2 separate regions of the Homo sapiens genome follow, and region 1 is reported to be linked to region 2. Evidence: microRNA targets listed by miRTarBase, many of them from high-throughput screens and not tested one by one. Region 2 holds a microRNA gene; the other region holds the end of a gene's coding sequence.

Evidence for each region. Region 2 holds the annotated microRNA hsa-miR-6778-3p (UGCCUCCCUGACAUUCCACAG, at 2,148-2,168, shown strand). A microRNA usually pairs through its seed, bases 2 to 8, with sites in the 3' UTR of a target mRNA and lowers its output. Matches are read on the target gene's strand: a 7mer-m8 pairs with bases 2 to 8, a 7mer-A1 pairs with bases 2 to 7 and ends in A, and an 8mer does both.
Region 1: the mRNA of GEMIN8 is a reported target of hsa-miR-6778-3p. Seed matches in the 3' UTR shown: 7mer-m8 at 1,134-1,140, 7mer-A1 at 1,299-1,305, 7mer-m8 at 1,584-1,590 and 7mer-m8 at 1,718-1,724.

What each region holds. Positions count from the first base shown.
Region 1 is chrX:14,004,370-14,009,369 of GRCh38, reverse strand. It overlaps GEMIN8 (gem nuclear organelle associated protein 8), which reads left to right. Exons shown (of 5, transcript NM_001042479.2): 5 at 201-2,644. The coding sequence ends at 457. Among named protein-coding and RNA genes, the nearest start is that of GEMIN8, 23 kb to the left of the region's middle.
Region 2 is chr17:18,337,807-18,342,981 of GRCh38, reverse strand. It overlaps MIR6778 (microRNA 6778), which reads left to right and starts at 2,096; the gene lies at 2,096-2,168. SHMT1 (serine hydroxymethyltransferase 1) reads left to right here. Exons shown (of 12, transcript NM_004169.5): 6 at 2,169-2,250; 7 at 2,727-2,939.

The DNA.
Region 1 (5,000 bases), not on the chromosome of region 2:
TAATCTGCAGGTCTTGCCTCAAAATCTGGTAAGCATCTCATCTGGAACACTTGGGCCTGGTTTCACAGTTGGAAAGGGAAAGATGAGGGACCTTAGGGGGCTGCAGATGGCATGGCCAGCAGCAGCAGCACTCACTGGGCTCCTTCTGCAGTGCACACACGTGTGTTTATGTTCATGTTCACGTTCGTGTTTGTTCTCAGGGCGGCAGCAGCAGCTGGATGCAGAGCGCCTGGACAGCTATGTGAACGCTGACCACGACCTGTACTGCAACACCCGCCGGTCGGTAGAAGCCCCAACTGAGAGGCCTGGTGAGCGGCGCCAGGCCGAGATGAAGCGTTTGTACGGGGACAGTGCTGCCAAGATCCAAGCCATGGAGGCCGCGGTGCAGCTGAGCTTTGACAAGCACTGTGACCGAAAGCAGCCCAAGTACTGGCCGGTCATCCCCCTGAAGTTCTGAGCTCAGGGCACAGGGTACCCAGCCTCTCCTTCTTCCTTTTGGGTACACGCTCTTTATCTCTCCTTCTGTACATTTCTTAGGGAAAGGGGACTTTGTACTGGGGTACAGGCATGTTCACCACAGTCCCAGTGGGCCTGTCACGGGGTGGATGTACTATGCCAGCCACTTGGAGGTCTGCAGGACATGTTCTGTTGCCAACATGATAAATTTTCTCCTGACATAAAATAATTTTGCATATACTATACTGGTTTTTTATGTTGTTGGTAACAGTTCAATTCATTAACGTTCTTGCCTAGAGATACTGCCTGGTGTTTTGCTTTTTTATCTTTTCTTGTCTTTAACCTGTCTGAACTACACAAATGCCTTTAAAAAACCAGATATCCTCTCTGACTCTAGCTCCATTAGCCCCCACTAAAAATGAGCCAAGTGTGTAGTGAGACAAATACCACTACCTGTAGTGGAGAGGGATGCATGTTCTATAAAGGGCCAGAGAGTGAATATCTTTGGCACTGCAAGCCACACGGTCAGTGTTGTGACTACTCAACCCTCCCTTTGTAGTGTGAAAGCAGCTGTAGACAGTAAGTAAACAAATGGGTGTGGCTGTGTTCTAATAAAACTTTATTTATAAAAACAGGCGGCCGGGCGCAATGGTTCATGCCTGTAATCCCAGCACTTTGGGAGGCCGAGGTGGGCAGATCACGAGGTCAGGAGATGGAGACCATCCTGGCCAACATGATGAAACCCGTCGCTACTAAAATACAAAAAATGAGCCGGGCATGGTGGTGTGTGCCTGTAATCCCAGCTACGTGGGAGACTGAGGCAGGGGAATTGCTTGAACCCAGGAGGCAGAGGTTGCAGTGAGCTGAGATCGCGCCACTGCACTCCAACCTAGAGAAAGAGCAAGACTCCGTCTCAAAACAAAAACAAAAACAGACTGCAGGCCAGATTTGGTCTACAGATGGTAGTTTGCCAACTGCACCTCTCATGGAATGAAAATCACCTGCCTGACATTTTTATTCTTGTTATCTCATTATGTCTACAGAGCTTAGATGTCATACAGAATTGAGAGCAAAGAACAATAATTCCGGCCCGGCGCGGTGGCTCATGCCTGTAATCCCAGCACTTTGGGAGGCTGAGGTGGGCAGATCACGAGATCAGGAGATCGAGACCATCCTGGCTAACACGGTGAAACCCCATCTCTACTAAAAATACAAAAAATTAGCCGGGCGTGGTGGCGGGCACCTGTAGTCCCAGCTACTTGGGAGGCTGAGGCAGGAGAATGGCGTGAACCCAGGAGGCGGAGCTTGCAGTGAGCCGAGCTCCAGCCTGGGCAACAGAGTGAGACTCCATCTCAAAAGAAAAAAAAAAAAGAACAATAATTCCCAAACCTGGTCACTGCTGCAGTCACCTCTGTTGCAGAAAACGCACAGTTGATTTCTTACTATATACAGCAAATATTGATTTGATAAAGGAATACATTTCTGAAAATGAAATCTAAAAGCTGATGGAGCAGGTCATTTATAAAAGCCAGCTGCCTTTTAAATAAGTTATTACAGTACATTGCCAGGGTGAGCCCATGTTGACCTGAGAAGATTAGCACATCCATCAAAGGCTGGTGAAAAGATTTAGTATTGACATGTTTCTCTCTAAGAACAGTTGGCTTCACATTCAGCCCCTGCCCTGAGACAAATGCATTATTTTCATCAGCCCTGGGTGCTTATTTTTCTAAGCTCTCATTTTATTACTGGAGTCACAATTTGTGTGTAGGTGTTGCCGACAAAAATGATAATTAACTTTCCCTTGAGGTGACACATAACTAAAATTTCAAATCTTTAGTATTTCTCCCTTTCATTTTAAATTCATATGCCTAACTATAAAATAACTGTGACTGAGATACAAGTACAAACCAAAGCCTGGAATTGCAGCAGGTGCTGAGGCATTTGAAAGTGAAATGTTTCTCTTCGCAAAGGACTCTTATACCCTCCCCTAAAGAAATCACCATGCCGGTCTCACCCCTACTGGCTTTGTTACCTAAGGCTTCACCTCTCAGTGCTTCTGGTTCCTTCCTTATCCTTAAAATGAGTGTTAATAATTCTCTCGTGGGGTCATTGTGCGGACCACATTGAGTAGTGCCTGTAAAACAGTGCTGGCTACACGGTAAATACTCAATAAATGTTGACACGTTTATTACCTGTCTTTAAAAATCACTGGGAAGTGCCAGTGGGAGTCTTGAGTATAAAATTTCTAAATACGGAGAAATGTTTCCCTGTCAGCTCTCCGAATGGATGCGCTGGCTTCTGGACACCTCATGCCAGCCCATCCTTCCTCCTGCTTGTCTCAGATAATTTGTGATACAAGGCACACGTGACTCGTTTGTTTGTTTATCCAACAAATATTTGAATTTCTTCCATCACAGTTAGTTAAACCATAGTCTCTTCCCTCAGGATTTTTTTTCTCCCTTTTTTTCTTCTAAATCCTACTTTTGCTTCTGTCTGTTGGTGACAGTCTGATGGCTATTCTCCCTGTGTCCCTGTGTATGTGAGAGTAGATGGGCATGCAGAGCTTATTAGATGTCTCTAGCTCAGGCCGGGAGCGGTGGCTCACACCTGTAATCCCAGCACTTTAGGAGGCCAAGGTGGGCGGATCGCCTGAAGTCAGGAGTTCGAGACCAGCCTGGCCAACATGGTGAAGCCCTGTCTTTACTAAAAATACAAAAATAAGCCAGGTGTGGTGGTGCACACCTATAGTCCCAGCTACTCGGGAGGCTGAGGCAGGAGAATTGCTTGAACCCAGGAGGCAGAGGTTGCAGTGAGCCGAGATTGCGCCATTGCACTCCAGCCTGGATGACAGAGTGAAAAAAAAAAAAAAAGTGTCCCTAGCTCTTTGGCCAGTCACAGAAGAATCTGTGGATGTCTTCACTGATAGGATCACATGGCCTTTTAACAAGGCCACCTTTGCCACCGAGGGGAACATGTGTTGGAGGCACCAATATCTGATGGAAAAAACAAACTTCTTTTTTCTCTACTCGCACTCAATACAACAGAGAGCACTTCTGACACCAGATGTCAGGGGGCTTTTCCCTACACATCAAGCAATTTCTCCAGGGGCCACCAACTGGGTGTCCTATAATTCATTTCTGACACTATCTATCTGGAGGTAGCATCAGATCCCACAAGTTAAAGGCCCAGTACCACAGGATTGCCCCCGACTTCAGATGCCAATCACAAGTAGTAGGTTGTCACGTATACTTCTGACTGAACAGCTATCAATTAGGGTTCCCACGACCTCCTCTTTGGGTTCAATTAATTTCCTAGGAAGGCTCACAGAACTCAGGCTCACACTTCTTGAGTTTACCTGCTTACTAAAGGATAGTACAAAAGATACAGATGAACAGTGAAGAGATGCATTGGGCAAGGTATGTGGAAAGGGGTGCAGAGTTTCTTTGTCTCTCTGAGCACGCAGCCCTTCAGGAACCTCCACATGTTCAGCAATCCAGAGGCTCTCCAAACCCAGTTCTTCTGGGGTTTTTATGAAGGCTTCATTACATAGTCATGATTGATTAAATCATTGGCCATTAGTGACCAACTCAACCATCAGCCCATCTCCCTTCCCTGGAGGTTAGGGGGTGGGCCTGAAAATTCCAACCTTCTAATCATGTGGTTGGTTCCCCTGGCAGCTGGCCCCATCCCGAAGCTGTCCAAGAGCCCACCAAGAGTCACCTCATTAGAACAAAAGACTCCCATCACCCAGGAAATTCCAAAGCATTTAGGAGCTCTGTGTCAGGAACCAGGGTCAAAGACCAAGTATTACAACAAAAGACTTTCCTAGTGCCTCTATCTACAAGAGTTTCAGGGGGTCTATGTCAGAGACCAAATATATATATTTTTTATTATCTCACAATATCACACAATGGGGGGCAGGCAGACCACTTACAAGCCTATTGCAGAAAAGGTGTTCAACCTCACTGGTAACCAGAGAACCACTAATTACAATAAGAGTGATATTCCATACCCTTCAGATAGGCAAATGTCTAAAAAGAATAAAAATGCTGGCCAGTCACGGTGGCTCATATCTGTAATCCCAGCACTTTGGGAGGCCAAGGCGGTTGGATTGCTTGAGGCCAGGAGTTCGAGACCAGCCTGGCCAATATGGTGAAACCCCGTCTCTACTAAAAATACAGGAAAAAAATTAGCCAGACATGGTGCCATGCACCTGTAGTCCCAGCTACTTGGGAGGCTGAAGCAGGAGAATCACTTGAACCCAGGAGGCAGAGGTTTCAGTGAGCTGAGGCCGTGTCAGCCTGGGCAACAGAGCGAGATGCTGTCTCACAAAAGAAAAAGAATAAAAATGCCAAGTGTGGCAAGGACGTAGAGAGATGAGAACTCACATTGCTATGGGAGTATAGGTTGGTCCACCCTATTGAAGGGCACGGTGGCATTTTTCTTGCAAAGTTAAAACAGGCACATATGACCCAGCAATCCTACTCTCAGGTATATGCCCAAGAGACACTCTTCCATGTGGGCACAAGGAGGTGCACAAGAGA
Region 2 (5,175 bases):
TGTTTTATTTATTTATTTATTTATTCAATTTTAATTTTTTTTTTTTGAGACAGAGTCTCACTTTGTCGCCCAGGCTGGAGTGCAGTGGCACCATCTTGACTCACTGCAACCTCCGCCTCCTGGGTTCAAGTGATTCTCCTGCCTCAGCCTCCCGAATAGCTGGGATTACAGGCATACGCCACCACGCCTGGCTAATTTGTGAATGTTTAGTAGAGACGGGGTTTCACCATGTTGGCCAGGCTGGTCTCAAACTCCTGTCCTCAGGTGGTCCACCTGCCTCGGCCTCCCAAAGTGCTGGAACTGCAGGCATAAGCCACCACGCCCAGCAGTTCGATTGTTTTAGATTTCACATAGAAGTAAGATCACATGGCCAGGTGCGGTGGCTCACACCTATAATCTCAGCACTTTGGGAGGTCGAGGTAGGAGGCTCACTTGAGTCCAGGAGTTCGAGACCAGCCTGGGCAACATGGTGAAACCCCATCTCTACAAAAATATAAGAATTAGCCGGGTGTGGTGGCACTGCCTGTGGTCCCAGCTATTCAGCAGGCTGAGTGGGAGAATCGCTTGAGCCTGGGAGGTAGAGGTTGCAATGAGCCGAGATGGCACCACCGCACTCCAGCCTGGGTGACAGAGTGAGACTCTGTCTCAAAAAAGAAGTGAGATCATGCAGTATTTGTCTGTCTGAGCCTGGCGTATTTCACTTAGCATAAGGTCCTCCAAGTTCATCGGTGTTGTTGCAAATGACAGAATTTCTTTTTTCAGACTGATTATTATTACATTGTTTATATATATATGTGTCACATTTCCTTTGTCCATTCATCTGTTGATGGACATGGCTTTATTCCATAACTTGGCTATTGTGAATAGTGCTGCAGTGAACATGGGAGTGCACATGTCTCTTTGACATACTGATTTCAAGTTCTTAAGATATAGATTCACAAGTGGGATTGCTGAATATGGAATTGATTTGTGTGGGTGAGGCGGGCATCCAGATAACATTTTTGTCCAAATGGATGCCCAGTTGACCTAGTGCCATTGATTGAAAAGGTCATCCTCTCCCCACTGCACTGCAGCGTCACCACTGGCATGGATCCAATGACCTGTGTTGTGTGTGGTTCTGCTTCTGGTTAAGCCAGATGCTCTGCCCTTCCATGAATGCGTGCTGCCTTAATTACTATAATTTGTCAAGCATTTTGTGACACAAAATACACAACGCAATGATGTTTTGTGTAAAGGTTTGGTATGATTTTCCTTTTATGGTTTTTGTTATTTACATTTCATTTTCTATCTTTCTTGCTTTTATATACTTTTTGGCTTTTTTTTTTTTTTTTTTTCAGATGGAGTCTCGCTCTGTTGCCCAGGCTGGAGTGCTGGAGTGCAGTGGCACAATCTCGGCTCACTGCAAGCTCCACCTCCCGGGTTCACGCCATTCTCCTGCCTCAGCCTCCCAAGTAGCTGGGATTACAGGCGCCCGCCACCATATCTGGCTAATTTTTTGCATTTTTAGTAGAGACGGGGTTTCACCGTGTTAGCCAGGATGGTCTCGATCTCCTGACCTCATGATCTGCCCGTCTCAGCCTCCCAAAGTGCTGGGATTACAGGTGTGAGCCACCGCGCCCAGCCCCTACTTCTTGTTTTTCAATGTTGTATCCAGTGACCTTGCTAAATTTGCTTATTCTAACAGTTGGCCCCTAGCATCTTGATTTTCTAGGTATATTGTGTTGTCTGTGTGTAATGTCAGTTTTTAAATTTCTTCTTTCCTAATCGTTATGCCTTTTGTTTCTTTTTCTTGCCTCATTATACTTGGAATAGAAGTAGTATTAGCAGGCATTTTGGTCTTGTTCCTGAAGGTAACCATTTTGGTTTCCATTGTGTGGTCCCGTCACATTTGTTTCATTCTGCAGGTGCTTTTTGGTTCCTTCTCAGCAGGTAGTGCCCCAGCAGCAGGGCTCACTACAACCCTGGGACTCCTCAGGGACTCCTGGGTCTGTGAGCCATACTTGGTTGAGCAGGCTGAACACACCAGTATCCATCCTGTCTCACCCTCAAGTCCTCATCTAGGACATCATTCCTCTTGTCATGGTGGGTGGAGCCAGTTCAAGTGGGAGGACAGGAGGCAGGTGTGGTTGGAGGAAGCAGCCTGAACCTGCCTCCCTGACATTCCACAGGTGAACCCAGATACTGGCTACATCAACTATGACCAGCTGGAGGAGAACGCACGCCTCTTCCACCCGAAGCTGATCATCGCAGGTGATGCGCGGGGCGGAAAGTCACCTTGTTCACCAGTAGCCTGGTGCCTCTTACAGAATGAGGATGGAAAGATGTTCGCACCCTGTTGAGCCCACTGCTAGTTTCTGCCCTGGATAACTGAGTTTCTGGGGTCTACATATATTAGTTTCTTTCAGGATACAGATGTGTGTTTGCTGCTTTTTGTGCTATGTAGATTAAGATGTGAGACTGTTCTCAGAGAAGCATCTAGAAATGTCAGGCCCTGACTGCGCTGGCAATAGTAGTTGGGGCCATCTCAACCACCAAGACGTTGAAGAGTTAGAGTGGTTGCCTTTAGCACAGAGGTGCTTTTTGAGGGCATTCTCCATTTTTGCTCTGAGACTTTAAGGGAAGAAATCTCTGGGCTTTCAGATCTGCACATCTAGAGGCCACTGTGAAGCCAACTCAGCTGGCCGGTGGACATCTCTGATGCAGCTGTGTCACCTTTCCTGTCTCAGGAACCAGCTGCTACTCCCGAAACCTGGAATATGCCCGGCTACGGAAGATTGCAGATGAGAACGGGGCGTATCTCATGGCGGACATGGCTCACATCAGCGGGCTGGTGGCGGCTGGCGTGGTGCCCTCCCCATTTGAACACTGCCATGTGGTGACCACCACCACTCACAAGACCCTGCGAGGCTGCCGAGCTGGCATGATCTTCTACAGGAAAGGTGAGCTCCCGAATGTTGGGTACAGATGGGTACCATGGTTTACATTTCTCCTGTGGGGGTTCAGATTCAGTTGAGGGAGCTGGGAAAAACTCTGACCTGGGATCCTTGGAAAATATTAAGATCCCAGTCCCTTAAAGAGCTGCTTAGGAAGGAGCAGTGACAGGCTTTACAGAAAGGATTCCCGGCCAGGTGAGGTGGCTCGCGCCTGTAATCCCAGCACTTTGGGAGGCCGAAGCGGGCAGATCACGAGGTCAGGAGATCAAGACCATCCTGGCTAACACGGTGAAACCCCGTCTCTACTAAAAACACGAAAAATTAGCCGAGTGTGGTGGTGGGCACCTGTAGTCCCAGCTACTCAGGAGGCGAAGGCAGGAGAATGGCGTGAGCCTGGGAGGTGGAGCTTGCAGTGAGCTGAGATTGTGCCACTGTACTCCAGCCTGGGCGACAGAGCGAGATGCCGTCTCAAAAAAAAAAAAAGAAAGAAAGAAAGGAATCCCCAGAAGGAGACTGTCAGCCACAGCTCCTGCTTCACTTTTGTGCATCCAGGTCCTAGGAACATAGGAGGGGGATCAGCAACCACTATGTGTTAGGATGGCGCCGGTTGCTGAACTCGAGAGGCAGGTGTTTGAATGAAAGGAGGGTGCATGGCTGGCTGGGGGCCACTGGGAGGCCTCACAAGGCTGCATTATTCTGGTGAACTTACAGTGATCCATCATGTTTCTCAAAGAGAAAGACTCATAGTAGTCAAACTAGAAGACATGGATGTATAAACATTAATATCATTTTAGTGAAGGTTTTTCTTTCCATTACCTCATAACCTACCCCTAGGCACTCCCCTTATTTTCGAATTCCCATACCTGGGAAAGCCTGTTAGTGGTCAGGTCATCATTTAGCCTGTGGTGAGACCTGATGCGCCAACTTTGCATCAGCAGAGACACCAGCCCTCTGGTGACTACATTACTCTTTTTTTTTTTTTTTTTTTTTTTTTTTTTTAGTATTTATTGATCATTCTTGGGTGTTTCTCGTGGAGGGGGATTTGGCAGGGTCATAGGACAATAGTGGAGGGAAGGTCAGCAGATAAACAAGTGAACAAGGGTCTCTGGTTTTCCTAGGCAGAGGACCCTGCGGCTTTCCGCAGTGTTTGTGTCCCTGGGTACTTGAGATTAGGGAGTGGTGATGACTCTTAATGAGCATGCCGCCTTCAAGCATCTGTTTAACAAAGCACATCTTGCACCACCCTTAATCCATTTAACCCTGAGTGGACACAGCACATGTTTCAGAGAGCACGGGGTTGGGGGTAAGGTTATAGATTAACAGAAGAATTTTTCTTAGTACAGAACAAAATGGAATCTCCTATGTCTACTTCTTTCTACACAGACACAGCAACAATCTGATTTCTCTATCTTTTCCCCACATTTCCCCCTTTTCTATTCGACAAAACCGCCATCGTCATCATGGCCTGTTCTCAATGAGCTGTTGGGTACACCTCCCAGACGGGGTGGCGGCTGGGCAGAGGGGCTCCTCACTTCCCAGAAGGGGCGGCCGGGCAGAGGGGCTCCTCACTTCCCAGAAGGGGCGGCCGGGCAGAGGCGCCCCCCCACCTCCTGGAAGGGGTGACGGCCAGGCGGGGGCTGCCCCCCACCTCCCTCCCGGACGGGGCGGCTGGCTGGGCGGGGGCTGCCCCCAACCTGCCGGACAGGGCAGCTGCCGGGCAGAGATGCTCCTCACTTCCCAGACGGGGCGACTGCCAGGCGGAGGGGCTCCTCACTTCTCAGATGGGGCAGCCGGGCAGAGACCCTCCTCACCTCCCAGACGGGGTTGCAGCCGGGCAGAGGTGCTCCTCACATCCCAGACGGGGCGGCGGGGCAGAGGCGCTCCCCACATCTCAGATGATGGGCGGCCGGGCAGAGACGCTCCTCACTTCCTAGACGGGATGGCGGCCGGGAAGAGGCGCTCCTCACTTCCCAGACTGGGCAGCCAGGCAGAGGGGCTCCTCACATCCCAGATGATGAGCGGCCAGGCAGAGACGCTCCTCACTTCCCAGACGGGGTGGCGGCCAGGCAGAGGCTGCAATCTCGGCACTTTGGGAGGCCAAGGCAGGCGGCTGGGAGGTGGAGGTTGTAGCGAGCCGAGATCACACCACTGCACTCCAGCCTGGGCAACATTGAGCACTGAGTGAACGAGACTCCGTCTGCAATCCCGGCACCTCGGGAGGCCGAGGCTGGCAGATGACTCG